2 separate regions of the Homo sapiens genome follow, and region 2 is linked to region 1. Evidence: fine-mapped expression QTL. A gene starts in region 1. The other region holds a variant in brackets. All regions are shown on one strand. Distances are from middle to middle.

Region 1 (5,304 bases):
AAGTTGAAGTTTGTGATACAAAACACACTAGCATGTAATAATGTATGCCCCTAAATTATATTTAAAAACAAATTGGGCACCATCAGCTGCAGTCTCTCCAAATAAAACTTACTGCAAAACCAGAAAATGTGTATCAATTCCTCACCTTCAAGCACAGCTTGCTTTGCTCTAGAATCTTTTTACTGGTTTTCATAAATGTTTAATATCATTTCATTAAAAAGATTTTACTTTTTAAAAAGTAGAAATCTAGTAAAATCTATGTGTTAAAAAAATCACTCATTGCTAAAATCTAAACTTAATTCTAAAATTTCTGCTAAGGAAGGAAAGCGTAAGAGTACTGAAAAGAGTAGGCAAGCCATACACCAGGTGTAGCAGATCTAAAAAGTTGGCCCAGCTGTGGAAGACCCTACACATGCCATCTAGTTTTGTTAATTGTGTTTCAGTCGTTCAGGTTATAAAACTACTGTGTGAAAGAGAGGGCAAAAAAACAAAAAAAAAAAAACAAAAAAAACAAAAAAAAAACCTGCTAGTTTCTTAATTCTGAAGTTAGACCAGTTTTCTAGGCTATCTTCCCTTTAGTTCCCAGCGCTCGGATTCTCTCCACTCTGCGCCGGTTGCCAAGTGTTTCAAGTTTCCAAGAGCCGAGAGAGGAGTTGCCAGTGCTTACCTGTTCCCTCGGTATACAGGGCAGGGAGGTCCTCCGATGGGACTTGCTGCTGCAGCCGGACATCTCGGCGGACACGACGGAGCTGGACCGCCTCCTCCTCTTAAACACCGGGATATCTTCCTTGGTCCCAGCAATCAGCTGGGACCCCAAATGCTCCCTTGGAGCCGCCTCCGCGGACTGCGGCAAGATTTGTTCCACGTACCTGGCCAAGAGGATCCCCAGCACGCCGGCCAGGTACGCCAGGTAAGGTCTCCAGGCGACCTTGAACCTCTCTAAGGAAATGAGGGACACGGTCCTGACCGCGCTAGTCAAGGCGATCATGAGGACGCCCAGCCTCAGCCTCAGCACCAGCCATGTCGCGGCGGCCAAGCAGCTGAGCACCACCCCCGCGGCGGGGAGTGAGAGTAAGTGATCCTCCCCGACGCCCAGCCCAATCTGGACGAGCGCTTCCCCCCCGCAGCAGGCGGCCAGCAGCGCGACAGCCAGAGGCAGGCGCACCCCGGCGCGCAGGAGGTACAAGCCCATCCAGAAGAAGGCACACAGGAGACTGAAGAGCAGCGCCGAGGGCTGCAGCCAGGGGCTGAGCCGCGCACCGCCCCCGGGAGCACCTCCCCGAGGCCCCGGGAAGACGCCCCCTTCTGCTCCCGGGGCTGCTTCCTCCTCCTCCGCCGCCGCCGCCTCCTTACACTGCTCCAGGTCACAGCCGACCTCCCCGCGGACCAGCCTCACCAGCAGCGCCAGCAGAAAGGACAGGGAGCCCGCGCACAGCGCGGAGGAAAGTTTCCGAGAGCTCCGGAGCGGCTGCAGCACCAGGTCTCCCCAGCAGCCACGGCAGCCCGAGTCCCGCGGCGATGCGGGGTCCGCACGATGGTGGCAGTCCCGGCCCGCCGTGGGGGCTTGACTCACCCCACTGTGGACGGGCTTGTCCCTGACTCGTGCAGCGTCGCCGGGCACTGCCATGGTATAGGGTGCCCTCTTCACTGAATTCCCAGTGGCCCCCCGACGCCCCCGCCCCGACCCACGCGCGCGCGCGCACACACACACACACACACACGCACGCACGCTCTTCCCAATTCCACCCTCGGAATCCTTCTTCTCCCCAGGCCCACAATCCACTGAAAGTTTCAGCTTTCGAATAACTCCTGGAGAATGCTAGATGCTCCAATGAGACTTCTTCAAGTTAAAGGCTAGCACGCTCAAGTTGAAAACAAGCACGGGCAGAAACGATCAGGATTCCCCTTTTCTCTCTTTGAATATCTTTCACAGATTCTCTGCTCCACCCCCACCCCCGACTTATATCCTCCGGGGTCTCTTCCTACTTCAGGATTTCAAAAATTGCCCAATGCATCCCGCGCGCAGGAGCCGCTGACGCTGGAGGAGCCGGGGGCGCAGGGCGGGCTCCGGGCCATTCCGAGGCGCAGCTCGGCGCTGCGCTGCGCTGCAGCGCGCCGGGCCCGCGGCAGATGGAGGTCTCCCTTCTCCTCCTTCCTGCAGCTCTTTTTCTATCACTCTTTCTTTCTCCTCGGCCGATTCTCCCCGGCACGGCCCCAGGACGCGAATCGCCATTCCCTGGGGCAGAAAGCAAAGCCTCCCCCGCCTCTGTCAATCCAATTCATGGCAAAGGATGGAAAAAAAAAAATGGACAAGGGGCTGAGAAATAAGAAGTTGCTAAGTCCCGTCGGAGAGAGAGCCAGACCGAGAGACTAGCGGCAGCCGCAGAAGGGAGGGAGGGAGAAGGAGCGAGTAAGAGAGGAAGGGAGGGTGAGAAGAAAGGGAGGGTGAGAAGGGAGAAGGAGATTTGCTTTTTTTTTCCCTCCCCACTTCTATTTGATGCAAGGTTGGTGGTGATTTGCAGTTTTGCAAAGGGGAAACGAGTGGCGACGACTGCTTAAAATTGTATAAAACTGGCAACTGGAGTGATCGACAATTCCGCTTTCTTTCTTTAAGGCAACTCCCTAGGAAAGCTTTCTCAGCCGAGCTCCCGCCCCCTCCTGCGGAGGAGGCGCTACCCTCAGCTCGATTGCTCCTTTGCTGGGAAAGCGGCCGGTTCACCCTACAGGCTGGAGCAGGGGCTGCTGAGGCTGATCCACCGCGCAGCCCACCGCAGCCCCGGGGTGTGGGGGGCTGCGGCTAGCCCTGAGGCTGAGCTCCCTAGAACGTTGGAAGGAAAAAAAAAAAAAAAAGATTGTGTTTGCCTACTTGGCAGATGAGAGCCAACATACTTTCTACTGTCCCTGAAAATGACAGCCACTTCTACTGTCTGATTCAAAGATGTTCCCAAGTCAGGTACAACAGCAGTCCAATTTCAGGTGACAGTGTCATCCTTTGGTCGCTCCTGCTGGAAGGTCTGCTTTATGAGAACCCAAGCCTGGCCTGTTGGTTCAAATGATGGAAGAATCAGCCTTACCTAGACCACAATAGTATAAAAAGAAAGGAAGGAGAGGCAGCAGTCATTTAAATCCAGTGCATGAGTATTACACAATAGTTTTTGACTGTGGAAAGTAAAATTACATTGAGATTAAGTGACCGTATCCTCAAAAAAGGTTAACAAAGTTTAAAAGCCCAGATAGTTCATCAAAAAATAAAGAAAAATCTCAAGGGAGAGGTGAGGATAGGTGGGTTAACACTAGGAGAGATCTTAGAAGACTGTCTATGGCTGCAAAATACTACATCTTCGAGCAAAGCATATGAAAAAAATCAGGACCTTAGTTATTAATGAGTAAAGGTTCGTGTACTGCAGCAGTGTGATATTTGAGAAACTAAAAGAAAATTTTCAAGCTAACCTTTTTTTGGCAGATTATGAAAAAGAATTCAGTATCTGTTCAATGGACTTAAACTCTATTGATGTTCCCTGGGATCTAGTTGTCTTTTTAATATGATACTCCACTTTTAACATGGCTATCTTAGATGTCATTTGCCCTCACTAATAATAATCTTAATAATCCAATTTTGTCTTAATTATCTTGACATTCCAGGTTAAAGTGTATTTACAGCCTAGAGCATTTAGATAATTGATTCAATATGCCACTGTATTTTGTATGTAGACATGAAGCAATAAAAAAAGCCAAAAGGAGATCCTTGAGATAAAATTAATTTATGGGGACAGGGGGAGAAGATGACTTAAGTTTTAAACAGCTTCATGGGAAGCAGCCTGTTCTAGTAGAAGGCAGATATACTATAAAGGTATAGCTTCTCTCTGTCAGATGTCCAGAATTGTGCTACCACACAGGAGTATGAGTTGGGCAGCTAGTCAATGGCAGTGGGCACCATCTGTTTAATAATTAAGGAAACAGGAGCAGCAATGTCTTTGCCAAAGACAAATGAGCCCCCTAGCACGCACACATACTTTCATGAGTTTCCTTTTTAGACATATGATTCATATGCCAGATCCTACCTGGGACACATCGGAGTGAAAAACCTTGATTGGAAAATCATTCATATCTGTTGGCATCAAAAATAACATATTAAAATAATAAACCAAAAATCTGGCATATATCAAGGTTAAAAAGAAAAGCATAGTAAGGGAAATTTTAGAATATTTCAATTTTATCTGTCCCCTACCCCCACAATTATCTCAGTTCTTTAGAAAATTTAATATAATATTATCATAAAAACTGAACACTTAAGGTATGGGAAGCAGATGTTTTTTAAAAGTTGTAACAGGAAAAAATGGCATTTGCTAATGGCAGCAAAACAAGAATATTCTAAATCCATGTGTTAATAACATCCTGGAACTCTTCAATAAAATAAGGAGGCAATGTCCTGGCATCCAGGTTTCTTTAACAAATCATAATCAAAAAGTTATTTGTCCCATCAAAAGGAAAGAAGGTAGATTTTTCTCCCCATACCATCCAGAACCCAGAGGCAAGTGAACAAAGACAACAAAATGCTAATGTTAGAGAGATGCAGAAACCTGCAGGGCTATACTAACTGAAAGAAGCGACTAATAATGTACCTTTAACAGAGTATATTAAATGAAATAAGCTGCAATACATAAACTGGATAGGGAGCAATCACATATAAACACTGCCTCTTTTCTACAGATAGTGGTGAGTCCTAGTTCAAGAAAGTGACAACACAGCCAAAGAATAAGGAAAATGTTGTACGTGCAGAAAAATAGTAGAGCATGGACAACAGAAATAAAAATTTAAGTTTTACTTGATAAATCTTCCACTTAGTCAAATCTAGCAAACATGTTTTTACAGTTTTTTGGGAAAAGGATCTAACCCTTCACATTTGAGCTTTATTAAATATAGTTAAGCGTCAGGGGATTCTATTGTAAAATTCAGTAAGTTTACGTTCCGTAGTATGGGTTCAATCATTCTCTGCTACCTATCTGATTATTATATATTTATATCTAATAGGTACCTAAAACATAAGGTATCCAAAACAAAATTCTTAACTTACAATTCCCTTCCTACCTATCCCCTACCCACCCAAACTATATTTTCTCAATCTTGTTACATCCCAGTAAAGAACATAACCATCTACCTAGTTGCTCAGGCCCCAGAAGAGGGAACGGGTCTTGATTCTTTCCTTTGTTTATCTTGTTTTACTTTTAGTCGATTAGGAAATCCACTTGATCCTGTCTCTAAAATATATTCTAAATCCATTTACTTTTCACTGTCCCTCTTATA
Region 2 (5,380 bases), 46 kb after region 1:
TGGGCTCAGATTATTTTACAGGTGAGTTCTATCAAACACGCAAAAATAATATATTTTGAAACAATGCCTTACAAAGAAGAGAAAAAGAGACATCCCCAAGTTAATTGACGAGGGTAGTGTAATGTTGGCATGAAAATGAAGTCAGGAATAATAGACTATTAAAGACCACCTTCACTCCTGAGCATAAATGCAAAAGTCCTAAGTAGATAGCAAACCAACTTTACTAATTGTTAAGCTTTCTCTTTAAAATCAGGAATAAGTCATCAATGTGCCCTATAATCATTTCTACTTTACTATATGGGAGACCTTATCTAATATAACAAAACAACAAAAATAAAGCCTAAGAATTGGGAATGAAAAAAATTATTATTATTTGAAGATTAGATAATTAGCTCTATAAACAACCTCAATTTTCTACAGATTATTAGAATAATTAAGAGTAGAATAAGATTGCCAGATCTAAGGATAATATACTAAAGCCAACTGAATTTCTGTATATCCATAAATAATAATTACAAAATTTAATTTAAACAAGTGTATTCTTTACAATAGGAACCAAAAATACACGGTAGTCAGAAATAAATAGAAATAGAAATTTTAAAAAACAAGAAATTAAGATCTTTATAAATTGAAACATATACCATGTTTATGAATAGAAAGACTAAAAAAAAATGTCATTATCCCCAAATTGGTTAGTATATTCAATAGAATTCTGATCAAATTTCCAAAAGAGTTTTTCTTGGAATTTGACAAGCTATTTCCAAAACATATGCACAAGAACGAAGAATCTAGAATAGCTAAAATATTCATAAGGAAGAAGATGAAGGAGGAGGAAGAAGAAAGTGTCTTATTTTCTCATTATGAAAAAAAATTTAATAAAGAAAATGTAATACTGGTATATAAAAATAAACCAGTGGAACCAAGTAGAAGGCCGGCCCAGAACCAGATGTATGTGTGTATGGCTATTTGACATATATGACAGAAATAGAATTCTTGGTCAGTTAGGAAAGAATAAACTATTCACAAATAGTCTAGGGCAATTTTCTGTCTATAAAAGATAAATAAAACTTGAACCTTGCTGAACCTTGCTTCTCTCTCTTTCTTTCTCCCTCTCTCATACACACACACAGACAAACAAATTATTTCTCTATACCTTAAAACTTACTTGTGAAAAATTTAAAAAGTTTAATGGCAGCACAGGAGAACACAGAGTGGGAAAAATTTCTTAAATAATGCATGTAACACTCAAGCAATAAAGAAAAGGATTCATATATTCAAATACAGTAAAATGAAGAACTTCCAATTGAAAGACAACATAAAAAAGTAAAGATAAACTGCACATTAGTTCAGGAAACAATATTTTAAAAATACATGACTAAGAAAATCTTAAAATCTTATCTCCAGAATATGCAAAGAATTCCGATAAAGCAATATGTAAGAGCAAACAATTCATTATTAAAAAGGGAAAATATGAGAGGCATTTCACAAAAGAAGAAATAGGAGTAGGCAATATCCATAGGAAGAGATGCTTAATATTATTAATAGTTAAGAAATACAGATAAAAACAAAATAAAGTTCTCATTTCATATCCATGATATGGAGAAAAGTTTCGATGATTAATAACAAATATTGGAAAGCATATAATAGAACAAGAACATCTAGAGTACTTGTGAGAATGTAAATTGCTACAACTTGTCTGGAAAACAATTAGGCACTGCTACAATAAAGTTAAGGTTATGAGTACACTACAACTCACCAATTCTATTTCCAGGAACATATCACAGAGAACTATCTCTACATGCATATCTGGAGACACACACAAAAATGTCAATAGAGGCATGATTTGAAGTAGACAAAAACTGGAAATCATAGATGGGAGACTAGATAAAGAAATCATCTTAAATTCATATAGTTGTACATAATATTGGTTTGAGAATGAACTGGAGTATCAACATGGATTAAACTCAAAAATAATATTCAGGAAAATGTCACCGAAGTATACATAAAAGCATAATTTATTATCAGCATATAAAAGTAAAAAGGAGATAAAACCAAATAGTGTATTTTTTAGGATGCACATATGTGATAAAACCACAAAAAAGAATTAACGGAATGATGAACACAAGTTTTAAAATACTGACTCCCAAAAAGTGAAGACAGGAATGAATGGTAGTATACTTAAGTTGCAGCTCATTTTCTACTTTTTAAGCCAGGTAGAAAGCATATGCCAATTTGTTTTATTGTTCTTTCTTAAATTGTACATATATGCCAAGTCTCCTCTTATAAACATTTCATAATAAAACAGTTAAGTGTTGTCATTTTAATTTTGTATCTTGAGTAAAGAAAAAAGAATTTGAGCTTGTTTTTATCTATATGGTGTCAAAAGTAGTCAACCTCCCTGTATTCCTGGTGTTTACCAGTGTCTCGGAGTGGTAGCCCCACTGTGATCTCTGGTCTTCCCATTGTTAGCAATTGATCTGACACAATCCCTGAGAATAATATAGTATTATTATATACCACTATATTTTTTCACTACTGCATGTCAAAGACTGAAGTTCTAGAACATTATGGAACACTCACTGTCACCTCATCTTAGACTTAACAAACCCAAATTCCTCACATTTCCTGAAGTTATTTTATTTTATTTTATTTTGAGAGACTAGCTGGGGCCGGACGCGGTGGCTCACGCCTGTAATCCCAGCACTTTGGGAGGCTGAGGAGGGTGAATCACAATGTCAGCAGATCGAGACCATCCTGGCTAACACAGTGAAACCCCGTCTCTACTAAAAATACAAAAAATTAGCCGGGCGTGGTGGCGGGCACCTGTAGTCCCGCTACTCGGGAGGCTGAGGCAGGAGAATGGTGTGAACCCGGGAGGCGGAGCTTGCAGTGAGCCGAGATCGCGCCATTGCACTCCAGCCTGGGCGACAGAGCGAGACTCCGTCTCAAAACAATAAAAAAAAAAAAAAAAAAAAAGAGACTAGCTGGAGCGCAGAGGCATGATCATAGCTCACTGAAGCCTACAGCTCTTGGACTCAAGCAATCCTCCCACCTCAGCCTCTTGAATAGAACTATAGAACTTCCTCAAGTTTTATTACTTGAAACCTACTCTTAAATATTACCCTCTGCATCATTCAGGGTTCTAACTAACCTGATTTTTTTTTTACTAAAATATGCTGATGTTTATTAACCATAGCAAGATACCATCCAAAAATATTATAACTACATA[T/C]TTATAAAAGATGCTATACAAACTATATTTCAGAGACCCAGAAGAAATTTTACAAATGGTATCAATTTCAAATAGGCCCTGGTAAGCTGGCAAGTGGTGTGCATTTATAGTCCCAGATATTAGGGAGGCTGAGGCCAGAGGATCACTTGAGCCCAGGAGGTGGAGACCAGCCTGGTCAAAAGAACAAGACCTCTGTCTCTGAAAAAAAAAAAAAAAAAAAAAAAAAAATAAAGGCCCTGGTATAAAAAGGGAAATTAGAAAATGAATAACTAAATAACTATAAATAAATTTCAAATAGGTCCTGGGTAAGCTAGCAAAGTGGTGTGCATTTCTAGTCCCAGATATTAGGGAGGTTGAGGCCAGACGATCACTTGAGCCAGGAGTTGGAGGTCAGCCTGGTCAAAAGAGCGAGACGTCTGTCTCTTTAAAAATAAAAAAAAAAAAAAGCCCTGGGATAAAAAGGGAAATTAGAAAATAATAAATAACTAAATAACTATAAATAAACATCTACCAAAAAGGCCCTGGTATAAAAAGGAAAATTAGAAAATAATAAATAACTAAATAACTATAAATAAACATCTACCAAAGTGAAAGACTATTAAACACGGTTTACACATTTAATAGACCTTATAGATTTCTACCCTAATGGATTTGCTGTGACAACCTAAATAGCTTGTAATCCACAATCACTGAAGCAGCAATAGCTCTTTGCAGTTATATTTTGAAAACAGGCATATCCACTATGGCTAGAAAAAAACTGTTATTTAAAAGAGTGAAAGGAAAGCCTAAGAGTAATTCATGTAAGTTAGACAAAGAATGGAACATTTTAATGCTAGTTAAAAACAGATACAGCTTCAGTTAGCAAGTGAATAAAAGGTCTTTTTTCTTTCTTTCTTATTCTTGATCACAGGAAAACTGACCTGACGAGGAGATGGAATCACTGACACCGGATGTCTCTCTTAGCAAGAGCAAGGAATATCAGAGGGACCTTTCTAATTCTGATATCTCTTGTCATGTGGTAGCTACTGGACACTGCCCGTCTCAGACAGTTCCTGATTATTGCCCTATAGCACTGGTTCCAAACGACTGTTCCTTCCCTAGGGTCAGATGCAGATACAATTACCTGGAATCAATTCAAGATAAAAGAGTCAGCTTTTGAAATGGGTCAGAAGAAAGAATCACTGCCAATGAGTGAAATCTGGTTGAAAGGCTAAAACAAGAACGATTCCCAGTTTGAAGCTTATTATTATTTCCAATTTTAGGTTGAGAGTTACAGGGATATTGTAAAATTGTAATTTTGAATATTGTAAATAAACAACTTAAAAGTGTTGCCAAAGTAGCTGTGGTAATCATTTCCCATAATTTTCTATTAAGGGTTGAAAATGCCAGATCAGGTGACCGCTTACTGAGGATATTTTCCCTTGGGATGCTATTGGTGTGCAAATGTATGTATGTATCTGTGTCTATGGTGGCATTTAGTTGTTCTTTTGCTGGATTGACTCTTCTATTTGCATTTAAAAAAATCAAGTAGGACGGGTGCAGTCGCTCATGCCTGTAATCCCAGCACTTTGGGAGGCCGAAGCAGGCGGATCACCTGAGGTTGGGAGTTCGAGACCAGCCTGACCAACATGGAGAAACCCCATCTCTACTGAAAATACAAAATTAGCCGGGTGTGGTGGCACATGCCTGTAATCCCAGCTACTCGGGATGCTGAGGCAGGAGAATTGCTTCAACCTGGGAGGCAGAGGTTGCAGTGAGCCAAGATCGTGCCATTGCACTCCAGCCTGGGCAACAAGACGGAAACTCCATCTCAAAGGAAAAAAAAATAATCGAGTAAATCTTATTTAGCCATGAACATTATATAATTAAGTCCTCAGTCCTCAGTTCTAATAGCAATGACTATGAAGAATTATTAATATTTAACAAGTGTTTCTTATCCCTGAATGGGCTGTGCTGCTTCAAGTTCCTGAGGCATTTTACTCTTTATCCTCTCTATCCGGAATACAACTTTACCTTCTTTTTTGTCCTTCACCTTCAACTTGCTACATGGCAGGAATCTGCTAAATGTGCTATATGCCTTATCCCATTTAATCTCACAGCAACACTCTGAGGTAAATTCACCCTCCACTTGATATTTGAGGAAACGAAAGC

Direction of the effects. Positions count from the first base shown, and alleles are read on the strand shown. Sizes are in standard deviations (SD) of each study's normalised expression.
For the expression in subcutaneous fat of the gene that starts at base 2,375 in region 1, allele T in region 2 goes with a higher level than allele C (moderate effect, 0.64 SD a copy in TwinsUK).

Evidence for each region.
Region 2: its variant is fine-mapped to the expression of PDE3A in subcutaneous fat (TwinsUK, PIP 0.95).

Annotation. Positions count from the first base shown.
Region 1 is chr12:20,365,608-20,370,911 of GRCh38, reverse strand. PDE3A (phosphodiesterase 3A) reads right to left here and starts at 2,375. Exons shown (of 16, transcript NM_000921.5): 1 at 668-2,375. The coding sequence starts at 1,627. It overlaps PDE3A-AS1 (PDE3A antisense RNA 1), which reads left to right and starts at 656. Exons shown (of 2, transcript NR_186033.1): 1 at 656-1,071. RefSeq lists a silencer at 1,043-1,337.
Region 2 is chr12:20,319,622-20,325,001 of GRCh38, reverse strand. It overlaps LOC105369688 (a long non-coding RNA gene), which reads left to right. Exons shown (of 3, transcript XR_931419.3): 3 at 4,140-4,186. Among named protein-coding and RNA genes, the nearest start is that of PDE3A, 46 kb to the left of the region's middle. The variant T/C (reference allele first, on the strand shown) is at 3,230.